Homo sapiens: one gene and its partner. The protein of the gene in region 1 purifies or fractionates together with the protein of each later gene. This does not show direct contact. Each region holds a gene or a part of one and is shown on either strand. Other genes may lie near its edges.

Evidence for each region.
Region 2: the proteins of KLHDC8A (region 1) and TMEM200A purify together in Homo sapiens (affinity purification with mass spectrometry; one large-scale study listed by BioGRID and IntAct). This does not show direct contact.

Annotation. Positions count from the first base shown.
Region 1 is NC_000001.11:205,335,561-205,337,741, forward strand, and holds the end of KLHDC8A (kelch domain-containing protein 8A), read right to left. Parts: intron 2,033-2,181; coding exon 1,839-2,032; 3' UTR 501-1,838; downstream 1-500.
Region 2 is NC_000006.12:130,372,517-130,376,016, reverse strand, and holds part of TMEM200A (transmembrane protein 200A), read right to left. Parts: intron 1-3,500.

The DNA of each region.
Region 1 (2,181 bases):
GGCACTCCAGTTGCTAAACACCTTTCTTGGGTAGGGGATTGAGGAGACAGGATGCCTTTGGAAGAGCATCCCCTAATGCACAGTTCCATCATCCCTTATAGTATCTGCAGCTCCTCCAGCTCCTGTTTCTATCTGTTACTTCAGGGGCTGAACTCAAATATAGGGATCCAGAAGCAGCAGGGGAGGCCTCTCTGCAGTCTCCTCACTAGGGGGCAGCAGCGGCTACGGGAGGCCTCCCAGCCCTGGGAGGGGGAAGGGAAATGCTGGGCCAGCAGGTGGCAGTGCCCTTCTTGGACCCAAGTAAGGAAAAAGTCCAAGTACCCAGAGAAAGGGAGGGGAAAAAAATCCGTATCCTGTAAAGACCCAGGTTCCACTTGTCCTTGAAGATCCCGCTGAAGGTGTCACACTCCCTCCCTCCAGGAGGCTCCCTGGACCCCTCAGATCCAGATAGGTGATCCTCCTCCATTCCTGCCTCCTGGAGAAAGAATTACACTATCACCTGATGAGTGATACCTGACTCCTCCAGAACCCTTCAGGGCAGGCATTTTATTCATCATTTATTTTAAAAATAACTGGGAGTCAGAAACAGATGCTAAGAGGAGGCACATTCTTCAAGTTTTCTAAAAGAACCCTTTCTACTTTGGATAGGACAAAAATGAGCTTTGGCTGAATGAACTGAGACTAGACATAAGAAGGACTGAGCTGCTGATGAGTTATGAATGGAAGACTAACACGCAGTCTCAAGGCAGGAGAAGAAGAACATGTGCTGTTTTCCTGGGAGTGGGGCAACTGGTGGTGGCTGTGAGAAGGCAGAGCTCTTCAGAGGGGACAGCCAAGAACAGGTAGTCACTGGGGGCCCTATTTAGCCTGAGAATGCAGGAGGGATTGTTTTATGGGGTCCTCCCTGCCCCTCAAGACACCCTTCCGCCCCATCCCCACACCAGGGTGCTAGAGAAGATAGGAATATAGATTTTAATCATTGTGCTGCTGCTATTAACCAGAGTGCAATTAATCCATCTTTTGTGGATTTTGATGCCACAGTGTAAATGAGAGGGTTTCACACAGAAACACTCTGGGGGCCTTCGGTGACAAAAGGGCTAGGCCTCTGGTGGGGAGGGGGTGGCAAAAGGTGAAGTGGAATTAGGAGAGATGTGGGGAGCAGACCCAGGGCTGGGAGACTGCTCCTTCCCCATCACACATGCCCATCAAGGACCCCAAGAGGAAGGGATTCTTCCTGCCATGGCCTGGGCTGTCCAAGTGAGCCTGACTTCCCTTCCAAGGCAGCTGCCTCTAGCTTCATGTCCAATTCTCGCTGAGTAGATGAGGTCCAGGGTAGGCCCACAGTTGACCACCAAATGGTGAAGAGATATAAGCCAAGGGAGAAGAAAGTGGTTTGGAACCCCCAATCATTCTCCATTTTTCATCCTAAGCTACCTTAAAACTAGTTCAGAGCTGGGGAAAGACAGCAACAGCAGTCTATCCTCTCGGTCAGAACTGCTCTACCTGCCTCCTGGAGATGGGGGTGGGGGGAGGTGGGACTCACAGGAGGGAGAGGTAGGAAATATTCCTGTGCCTTTCTTTGCCTGTGCAGTAAGTGAAGACTCTCTTCAGAGTCAGCTCTGCAGCTGGTGGAGTCATCTGTGCCTCTTACAGTTTTCTGAGATTGGTAGGATTTGGAGCTATAGAGAGGTCAACTTAGAGCCCCAAGGCCAGACTCCACTGGTTGCTAACAGGAGCTGACATTCTTGGAAGTAGCCCCGACTGCTTGGACAAGATCATTCCTCATGTTAAGAGTGAAGTGATATGGTCCAGGGCAAAGGTACTGAGCCCAGAGACAGCTAGGAGTCAGAGACACACAGGGCCTCCACTGCGTCACTCAGACCCTGGTTGACACCTCCCACGGCGAGGAGGCAGTTCTTGACGACTATGCTGGAGCAGGCACAGCGGGGTGTGGGCATGGCAGGGAGGATCTCCCATTTGTTCTTCCCTGGGTGGAATGCTTCCGCCGTCTCCAGGACAGTGGGTTGATTCCCTGAAAGTGTCAAGGGAATCAGACCTTACAAAGGAGTCCAACCACCAATCCATGCCCCACGGTCACCCCACCTCCCTCCCTTCGGCACCCACAAGCAGAAGCCAAGCAAGGTCAACTTCCTTGGCTACAGGATTACTCCCTTTACTAAG
Region 2 (3,500 bases), on another chromosome or scaffold:
ATATTTATAAATTTATTAAATATATTTACGTTATATTTATATTAAAACCCCTTTGTAGGGAGACATACTGTATATGAAATGTCTTCAGCCATATAGTGATATATGACATATCTTGACCATAACTACATATAGTCTCTAATGTGAGCATTGTTTTTGCTCCCAATACCAATATCATCATTACAGTGAGGTAATACTTTGCACTCTTCATCTCAACACTCATTTTTAATAAATGACCTCAAACATCATGCTCCAAAAGAGCAACCTTCTAATGGCTTTCCAGTGCACTGAGTATAAAACCTACTCCAATGCCCCCTCCCCAAATATGTGAGGCTGGCTCCTCATTCTCTCGCAGGTTGTAGCTTAAATGCCTCAAATGCAGAGAGGTCTTCCTTGACCATCTGATCTAAATGAGCGCATGCACTCTCTATGACATCAGATTTCTTGACTTCCCTTACAGCACTTTTTGAATGCCTGAAATTGCCTTGCTCATTTATATGTTTCCTGTTTGTGTCCTCCATTTACAATGTAAGCTCCTCCATAACTTTTTGTTTTGGTCATTACTGGATCCCCAGCTGGCAGCACAAATATTTAATGAATCCTTTATTAATTAATAAACCTTCTCCTGAGCCAAGTTTACTTTTTAACGCATGTTATAAGAGATTTTATGTGTCTTATAAGTAAGTAAATAAATGTATAGGCATAAATTCCTACACAGTGTTCTGCGTTATTGTTGTGTAAGAAGATCTGTCTCATATTTGACAAAATGAGTCATAATATAATTTAACAGCACCTGCTGAATGAATCTCTCTAAATAATCATTTGTTGAACAAATGAACGAAAATAATTTTGTTCAAAATTACTGACTGAGATCCATAAAGGAGAATAGAGTTATTACAATAGAATAATATCCTTCAACTTTTAGAAGAAAACCAAAACATTTTTTATTTTAGTTGTAAATTATTTTTGTAGGAATATAATAGTTGTGGAAAAATTGAAATTGGCACTCAAAAACCACCTCAAATTGACTGCTACTGTAAGTTTAATAGTTCCCTTTACTCTCAGTAAGTGTTTTTAGACAATAAAATACCCTGCAGAGGTATGTGTAAGATCCAAATTCCTCTTCTGGAATAAGTCAAAGTTCATTGCCATAAAACTAGGTACTGTGATGTGGTTGAATTTTCTTTGGAAAAGAGAGTAAAACCAGAAGTTTCAAAATTCAGGAAGTTTGTTTCTGGGCAATCAGTGACTAACATTATAGAAGTTTTCTAGGGGAAAAATCTCAAGCATTTTCATGGCCAGGTGAGGTTGCTCACACTTGTAATCCCAGTACTTTGGGAGGCTGAGGTGGGTGGATTACCTGAGGTCAGGAGTTCGAGACCAGCCTGGCCAACATGGTGAAACTCCATCTCTACTAAAAATAACAACAACAAAAAATTAGCCTGGCGTGGTGGTGTGCCCCTGTAATCCCAGCTACTCGGGAGGTTGAGGGAGGAAAATCGCTTGAACCTGAGAGGCGGAGATTGCAGTGAGCTCAGATCATGCCACTGCACTCCAGCCTGACTGGTGACAGAGCGAGACTCCGTCTGAAAAAAAAAAAACAAAAACAAAAACAAAAACAAAAACTCAGGCATTTTCAGATCCCACCTCCCAGCAAAACTTTGTCTAAGGTCATCTGCTAGGGACATAGCCATGGACAAAACAGTTACAGGCCTGCTCTCACTTGGGTTACAGCCCCAGTGAAAAGTGCAGTTAGAACACTCCATGACTACTAGGACCTAATATCCAAGGCTACAGAGGCGGGGCTGTCAGGGGTTTAGCTCTGCAAAAAGGGGCTCTCATCCTACATCAATCAACTTCTCTCACGGGCTGTTCCACAGCAGAGTCTGAAGAGTCCCCAAACAGGATATGTATAACACTGGCTTTCAAAAAATCATTCACAAGCTACTTTTTTCTATCATGGGCCCCTATCTGCATGTTCAGAAACATAAGTAAATTTTTAAAAGTGAAATGAATCACAATATCTTACATAGTCTACATTCTAAAAGGGAGATTTGGGTAACAAAGGAACAAAATCAGCAGTTAGCATAAACTATTCTTTTTTTCAAAATGGTGGCTTTTTTAAATTTAAAAATAAAAACAATCACCTAGTGAGAGCATGTGAAGGGTAGTTCCATGCACTGTCAGTCATAACTTCAGTTATTTGAAAATCAGTTTGGCATTAAGTATCAAGAGCCTGAAATTTTCATACCCTTTGACCCAGGAATTATCGTTCCACGAATCTTTTTAAAAGAAGTAATCTGATAAACATATATAAAATGGAATATAAATGCATTTATAACCCTTATGCACAAAAAACAGATTCTGAAATTTGAAGAAAGATTCATCAAAGTGCCATTTATAATATCAAATATTTGGAAATGGCCTAAAAGTTCAATTTTAAGGGAATAGTTAATAAATTATGATATGTCCACATAATCCAATATTATACTGACATTAATAAAGCTTGTCTAGAAGTTGGAAAATATTAAGACATAAGATTAAGCAAACAGAGTAGGTTGTAATACACTATTAAGCATTATGGAAAAAATCATTAAAAATAAGGAGAAAGAAAATGCCAAAATGTTATGAGTGCCTTTGGGTCATAGGATTACAGGCAAATTTTCTCCCTGACTTTTTATACTTAATGTATTTTTCTAAGGTTTTTATTGGGAGTGTGTATCGCCTTTATGATTAGAAAATCTAACAACATCTCTTCAGAAATGCTAACTCCATTTTATTGCAAATACTTGCACATGTATGTTCACTAAGCCGATCTGACTTACTTTGCCAAGGGAAACAAAATTTGTGTCTCTCCTATGCCAACCTCAGCTTAGAGACAGTACTGAGATTCTTTGGATTCATCCTGCATTTAAGCCCAAAGATGTTGATTCTCAAAAGGAAAATACTTTTTTTTCTCCCCAGCAGTTGCTAATCTATCAGCACCTCTGTGATTAGCTCACTATTTACAAGAAAGAGCCTACTCCTATTCACCATTGCTTTTGTGTCACAGGCCTCTAATATTCTTTGCATATCTCTACCAGCTTTATTTCAAAGCATTGTAACCATTTGTTTACATATTATTCTATTGAGTTGTTCTAAAAGTTTTACACATGGTTGTTTTACCTCTCCGAATAGGCTACAAGGTTCTCATAAATACTTCTATTTTTATACACCTTCTCATTCCCCTTCCTCTTGTTGTACATACATACACAGTCAATTGCGCACACATCCAGTCACACACCTAAGCAGATACAAATTTGGCCTTGTATTTGTTGGGGAACGATATGATGTCACTCACATTCTATTAGTAACTCATTTTATTTAGAGCATCCTCAAGTACACACCTTTGTAACTAGAGTGTTTCATGAACCTGCTACATTCAGCATGTGCTAGCGAGTGTCCTCTCTCCCTCTCTATATGTATCTACTTCTCATTTTTTCACATTTCAGGGCAGAGTATCT